2 linked regions of the Homo sapiens genome follow. The protein of the gene in region 1 purifies or fractionates together with the protein of each later gene. This does not show direct contact. Each region holds a gene or a part of one and is shown in the gene's direction. Other genes may lie near its edges.

Region 1 (3,823 bases):
CAAAGGAGGGCAGGTTCTGCAAGGAGGGCCAGATGCCAGAGAAGATAAGAGAAGAACCTGGGAGTTTCCATCGGATTTAGCATCAGGATGAGAACAATTATAGTGGTGAAGGTAGGAACCAGAATACAGAAAGTTTGGAGGTGAGTGGTTGGCAACAACATAGAAACAATGAGTATGGGTTGAGAAATTTGTATGGGGATGGGAAGGCAACAGGGAGAGGTTAACTAGACTAAGGTGCAGAAAGTTGACATCTTTTGTTGACTTTGGGAAAGGAACTGACAGGAAAGGGGAATGATTGACACATCATGGTCCCTAAAAAGGCAATCAAAGGATTGATCTTAGGTAGAAGGGTCACCTTACCTCCAGAGAATGGAGGGATCAAGGTAGGGTGGAAATGTAAGTAGATTTTATAGTAGGGTTGGAAAATTAAGGGAACTGATACCTGATGGCTTAAGAAGGAAGAGAGGTTTTTGGTTGTAGATGAAGTTAGTAACTTAAAGAAGGTAATAAGGATTTAGAACAATACCTTAGAGTAATGCTAGAGAGAACTGATCAAGGACAAGTGAAAGGATTGACAAATCTAGCTAAGGGCGCAGCTCAAATTGGAAACCATAAATTTGAGAATATAATTTTTCTCCTAACAATGTCAGTACCCCTTATGTCCCTACTCCCTTTCTTCATGACTCACAAGGAACAAAGTGGTACTCACCTCCATCCTACCACTTCTGTTTCCCTGTCAACAGTATAGTCATTCTTGGCAATAGATTTCAAAGTTTGCAGCCTTTGAAGGCTCACCTTTGAAATCTCACTCTAAAGGCAACGCATCTCTGAATTTTTCTGGCCATTAGGCTAGGTGCCCTCTAGGGTGAAGGGGTGCTCTGGGATGGTGATTTTTTTATTTACTAAGGTCATTTAAAGGGGTCTTCAGATACACATTCCCCTACCACAACTAGCTTTGCAGTCCTTGGGTCTGAATTTTAGATTATTTGTCTCTCTTTAGTCCTTATTTCTTGACCCTGCCTCATCTTGCCTAAGCTCATTCTTTTTGATCCCTCAGGATCCTGGGTATGTTTACATCCCAACAATGGAAACATCTGAGCAATGATTTCTTGAAGACCCAGCAGGAGAAGAGGCACAGTTGGTTCAAGGCAAGTGGTACCATCAAGAAGTTCCGAGCTGGCCTCAGCATCTTTTCACCCATCCCCAAGTAAGTGCTCCCTAAAGCTGATCATCTGTAAACACCTTGTGATAGCCCCCACCCCCACCTTCTTGATTACATAAATGTTTCTATCCCCTCTCTTCCCTGAATTCTGTCTCTTTAACTACTGACACCACTCACATGGTCCTGTTCCCTATGTGTCCTTACCTTTCTACTCCTTATCCAAGGTTAATACCTAATCCTTTATGTAAAACAGAATACCTAGCTCGTGATATGTATTTGGAGAAATGTATGCTGAATCTTCCATCTTTCTGTTCTTTTGTCCTGATCCGTTTCCCCATCCTAAGAAGAAAGTGTCAGAGAACAGGCAGTAATTCCTTGCTAGGTTCTGGAAATAAATATTGCTCCATTCTTTGACCCCAGGTCTACATTTTCCCCCTGTGGTGTCTTCTGATATTCCCAAAGGCAGACACAAACCCAGATTTGTAGCTTCCCAGGAATCATTGTTGACAGTCAGATAGTCAATATTACGCCCTTTGGGATGCAACTACTTCTTGCCTAGCGCAGTGTTTAACAATCTCTCTCTCTATTTTTTTTTCTCTCTCTCAGAAAAACAGGCAGCCTTTCCAAGGGATTATTCCATACTTGGCTTAGAAACATAATAACCTATCCTCTGCCTCTGCCCACCCTCAGTGTCCCAATGTGAAGAACCCACAGATGATGACATAAAAATTTTAATTCAGATGTGTGATCTACTTGTTTTAATAGTGTTTAAGATACAATGCAACTTTCCTCAGATATGAGTTTGTCTTTCTTTAGTTTAGAACTTTTGGCTTAGGGCTCACTTATCTCCAGTCCCCTCCAGGGATCCTATGAAATCCCCAGTTTTATCACTTCTCTTTGCTCTCTCTCTGCAGGTCTCCCAGTTTCCCTATCATACAGGACTCCATGCTGAAAGGCAAACTAGGTGTACCAGAGCTTCGGGTTGGGCGCCTCATGAACCGTTCCATCTCCTGTACCATGAAGAACCCCAAAGTGGAAGTGTTTGGCTACCCTCCCAGCCCCCAGGCAGGTCTCCTGTGCCCTCAGCACGTGGGCCTCCCTCCCCCAGCACGGACCTCTCCTTTGGTACATGGGCTGGGGAGGGTTTGACTTGGCTATCAGGAGGGTGGGAGTGGAACTGTGGGAGTGTAGTTTCTCAAAATGGGGTGGGGATATGGTTGTCTAGGCATCATAAATCAAACCTAGGTATGTACCATGAGTGAGTAGAATGGAACACTTCTTTTTTTTTGAGACAGGGTCTCACTCTGTCATCCAGGCTGGAGGGCAGTGGCGATCTCTGCTCATTGCAGTTGCTGCCTCCCAGGCTCATGATCCTCCTACCTCAGCCTGTCAAGTAGCTGGGACTATAGGCACATGCCACGACTGGCTAATTTTTCATATTTTTGTAGAGACGGGCTTTTGCCATGTTGGCCAGGGTAGTCTTGAACTCCTGAGCTCAAGTGATCCGCCTTCCTTCACCTCCCAAAGTGCTGGGATTACAGGCACGAGCCACCACTCCCAGCTGGAAAACATTTTTTAACAGTAGAAAACTTATGTCTAAATTGTCTAGCGAGCTTCTCTGATAGGCCATGAAGCACAGAGTCTGGAGATGGGAATCTCAAGGAGAAGTCATGTATGATTTTATTAGTTTGTGAGTAGGACTGTAGTTAACTGTAGCTGCTGTACTAACCTATTCCATCTACTTTGAAGGAGGGTTAAGGACAGGTGAGCCCCTTTCCAGAACCTTTGGCAAAAATGTCTAAAAGTCTCCTTTCTAGCTTCGGGATTCTGAGCTAGGGTTTAGCTGCTTTAGGAGAGTCCTAGGTGATAGGCAAGAGTCAGGTCTGTCTAGGCCCCAGCTTCATAGGAGGTTCACGGGGTCTGTCTTTTTACTCTCACCAGGTCAGTGGTCACTGCAAGAACATTCCCACTCTGGAGTATGGATTCCTCGTTCAGGTAATCAAGTCAAAATTGTCACTCCGAAGCCCTTCCCTGTTGTCTGACCCATTTGGTCTCCTAACACCTCCCAGCTCCTCAATCAAATACTTTCTGAATTGCTTTGCTTCCAGAACTAATGGTAGAAGGAAAGAAGGCATTGTTCCCATCTTCAAGAAACTGACAGCATTACTAGAAAGACAATACTTACCACTTATGATCAAGTGCCAATGAGGCACCGCCAATTTTAAGTGTATGAGTGTCGAGACTCATATGACATGAGATGAGAATGAGATTGACACTAATTTCCTTAATGATTCCCAATAGCCCTTGCTCAAATGATCTTTAGTATTCTTCACAGACCCCCTTTCACTGCTCAGCTACTACTGGTCATTTGCTTTTTAAAATCTCTTTATTCCCTGGGCATGCTTTCACTTTTGCATCTCTGTTAACCTTTGTTCATGTAATTCTTCCTATCTTCCTCTTGCTATCAAGAGTCAGATGGCACCTTTTCCATAAAATTGCCATTACTCCAATGCATTAACTAGATGTGATGTCTCCCCTCACTGAACTGTTACGATTTGTTTTTGTTTCATATGGCACCTGTGTGTCACATACTATGGGCTGCCTTGAATTGTTATTAATTTATAAACATGCCACATCTCTCCTATTGAAGTTCAGCTTCTG
Region 2 (3,823 bases), on another chromosome or scaffold:
ACTACACAGCTACATGTGTGCTACAGTGATGAGGTCCTATTTCAATTTCAGTATCTATCACATGCTTTTACTCATAAAGATTTGATAGTAGTTCAGAGCTGTTTAAGTGAGCAAGATACTAAGTTGTGTCAAAAGTTAAGGTTCTTCCTTAACATAAGGCGTTACTATCATGTAGTAAAATAGATTTCCCCAGAAGTTTATTACGAAAGAAGAATCTGTGGAGTCTGCTGAGCATCATGAAAATGAGTGGACAGTTCTTATAAGGTGACTCTTCTGAAGACTGACACTCACTCAAAGATATAAGATCCAAAATGTGTATAATCTTATTACTTTGTTGATGCATCCCTGTGCATCTTTCTTGAGTACTTGAAGGTTGAGAAACAAACCAAATTTACTCATTGTGTGTTCCTCCACCCAAATTAATTTTCTAGGCCCTTAAGAGAGATGACAAACTAGTAGATACCTTTCCCATCAGACAGAAGAGTGGAATCTGCTATTTTTATTTTAGAAAACTCAGAGTTTTTCTTAATATTCTGGAAGAACTGCCAGAGGCAACACTTGTGATACTAAGTGGGCAAATTCAGTTGTGAACTGCATACTCATGTTTCTAGTGGAGATTACAGAGGGCTTAGAATTTAACCTTTAAAAAATATGTATTTTCTTCTGTGTTACTGTTTCTCTCCCTCCCAGCATACCTAGGGAAAAGAGAACTCCCAAGAGAAGCATTGACCTCTGTCCATGGCACTCTCTCAGGCATGGGCTGGCTGGGATGGGGAGACAGGTTTCTGTCAGGGTACAGTATTTCTCAATGTAGAGAATGTGTGTGGTTCTGTAAGACTCTTGTTCCTCCACTGCCTGAGCAATACAGGATATTCTGGCTTAGACTGACTTGAAGAAGTTCCCTGTACTTTTCTGATTCACTGTCTTTCATATCTATGTTTCTGCCTCTTCAGATTGCAGTAAGGGTTTGTGGAATTTTTTTTTTTTTTTTTTTTGAGATAGGGTCTTGCTCTGTCGCCCAGCCTGGAGTGCAGTGGTACAGATCTCGGCCTTCCAGGTTAAAGCGATTCTCCTGCCTCAGCCTCCTGAGTAGCTGGGATTACAGGTGCCCACCACCACGCCTGGCTAATTTTTGTATTTTGGGTAGAGATGGGGTTTCTCCATGTTGGCCAGGCTTATGGAATAATTTTTTATGTTTACTTGGAACCCAGTCTTTCAGGGTTAAATGTCCTAATAATTATTAATACTCTACCTTCAGTTATCTTTGAAGGTATATATTTTAAGTAAATTAGATTGAGGGCATAATTATGCAGACAATAATTTGTAAAGGTATATAGTCTGAAATAGACTACATAATATTTTTTGGAGTATGAAGGGGGCTATCCTATTATATACCTTCCTCCAGACCAGACCTTGCTTTTTGTAGGTATAAACAATCTATTCGCTCGAAACCTTTTCTTTTATCCACCCTTGGGATCTAAAAGCCACCCAGTTGCTTTTGTTACTGTGGCCCATTTTTATTGCTCTACCCCCTTTTTAAGCTAGCATGGCATTTCCTATGGAGTATTATTTAAAAACTAATAACCACTGTGTAATGTTAAACAGCTTTTAAAACAACCTCGGAAATTCTCCCCAATACACACCTCACTTTTCATTACAGTGCACCTAATATAGCTGTATTTGTGTCTAGATTAAGTGGCTGCCGTAGCAATAAGGATGCATTTGTTTTCAAAAGGGATTTGGAGGATTGTGCTGATGCCCAGAATATGAAGGTTATCTAGGAGAAAAACAAAATCACAGAAAAAAATGTCAGCAGAGCAGGGTCTCTAAGTGTACAGGAGGCAGATGTGCACAGAACAATCATGTCTTTGATTATTGTGATTTTCAAGCCCAGTATTGTAGATTTAGCAGTTTTTAAAAATAGGATTTAAAAAATAAAAAGAATTCAAAATGCCACTACATAAACATATTCTCAGGTAGCAATCCTTTGAATGGTAAAAATTTATCTAGTTTTTAATGCCAATAGAAATATATTTATTTGCTCCTCCTCATTAATTAATAAAAAGGATTTCCTTTATAATATATTACTTCATAATGCTGCAGAGATTAAGGAAGGAAACAAGTACAAATATTATTCTTTTGTGTGCAGCTATGTAGTTGTTTCAATAAGCGCATGTTAATGATGTGGTTATTTGTCATTTTTCTTGGTGTATATTTGTGCTGTGTATTAAAACATAGATAAGGTCTGATGTCTCCAAACAAAAAATTATTAATCTGGGCTCTGTTTGAAATTTTTTGAAAGAATTCTCACTTGTAAGTTTAAGATTCTATAGTTGATTATAAATGCCATATATAAAAATACTGATCAAACAACTTTAAATGATTACAATTAGCAGAAGTATAAACAGATAATTAATGAGTCTTTTCTTCTCCACCATAAATTGTCAAAGTATGTTTTGGTAGAGAGAGTTATCAATAAGGATTCTGATTATACTTACTTCATTAAGTCTAATAACTTATTATTAAGTGCTGGATTTTTGTAAAACACTAGATTGTGTATAAATCTAATAAATGTCAAAAAGTGAAATTCGTTTAATTTTACAAGGACATTTAATCTGTGTTAAATTTCTAATTAGAGGGCTAGCTATGGGCTTTACTAATAGATGATCTTTTTTCATGCCTAAAGAAAAGAATCTAATTCAGGAAATCTACCTGTTGTTCCCTGACATGTATAGTCCCTGGGATATTGATTTAGCTGTAACAGGTAGGTTAGCAAGTACTGACTGGCTGTCTGCTCTGTGCATACAGTTGTGTCCCTGTTACATTTGTTGTGGTCTTTGTGCTCCTTAGTTCAGCTAGATCCAAGTTCTTGTCTTACAACCAGGAAGAATTAGACAGGTGGACACTGGAGAGTGAGTGGAGTAAAATTTATTAAGTGAAAGGAAAGCTCTCAGCAAATAGGAGACGCAGTGCAGGGTGGTTCCCCTACCCAAAGGCGGGAAAGTGCCCCATGTGCCTGGGTCCAGGTCCTTTTATGGACTCAGAAAGGGGAGTGCATGCTGATTGGTTTGTGAGTATGTAAAAAAGGTTAAAGTGAAGACACCACTCAATGGTGGGCACAACAGTGTAGAAAACCAGTTAGGAAAGGGTAGGTGTATGTAAAATAGGTGAAGGGTGGGGATCAATCAGAAGAAATTGAGTCAAACAGGAAGACAAGTTCTCAATCCGGTTCAAGGATTTAATTTGTAGCTTGGCTTTCAGGCTTTAAACTGTCTTTGGCTTGGAAGTGGGGCTTCACCAAGGACCCACCCCTATTCTCTCTAGGCATTTGGCTGCCTCCTGCCACTCTCACATTCATGTTTACATTACTGTTATGCCACCATGGATATTTACAGCAGTCCTTTGCAGACCTACTTCAAATAATCTACCCTACAACAAAGCTAATACAAAAATACTCCATATTACACTAAATTTGAGCATAATCTGTGCATACATAGGAAATGTGGGACTCATAACGTGTAAGATTTGATCATTCTAATATTTCCCCTTTAAAGTTATTTATGGCTTCCTCTTTGACCTGTTCTCATTACTGTAGATGATTGGAAGCATCTTCAGGAAAATTTCCATAGAGAAATATAGTTAATTGGAAAGTAAAGCATATTTCATTTTTAGACTTCATTCTGAAAAAATCTCATTTTCTTGTGCTTAATAAGAATTAATGAGAATTGTAGTTCTCCTAGCCATGAAATTCTAGAGCTGAGTAATGTTAACTAAAAGTGGTTATTGCTCAATGATTTGATTCTTTATGTAAAATGTACAAATT

What was found.
Region 2: the proteins of PARP6 (region 1) and ANKMY2 fractionate together in Homo sapiens (co-fractionation; one large-scale study listed by BioGRID). This does not show direct contact.

The regions. Positions count from the first base shown.
Region 1 is NC_000015.10:72,258,942-72,262,764, reverse strand, and holds part of PARP6 (protein mono-ADP-ribosyltransferase PARP6), read left to right. Parts: intron 1-1,057; coding exon 1,058-1,207; intron 1,208-2,076; coding exon 2,077-2,287; intron 2,288-3,103; coding exon 3,104-3,157; intron 3,158-3,823. UniProt on the Homo sapiens protein: Mono-ADP-ribosyltransferase that mediates mono-ADP-ribosylation of target proteins.
Region 2 is NC_000007.14:16,611,093-16,614,915, reverse strand, and holds part of ANKMY2 (ankyrin repeat and MYND domain-containing protein 2), read left to right. Parts: intron 1-1,643; exon of another isoform or gene 1,644-1,777; intron 1,778-3,823. UniProt on the Homo sapiens protein: May be involved in the trafficking of signaling proteins to the cilia.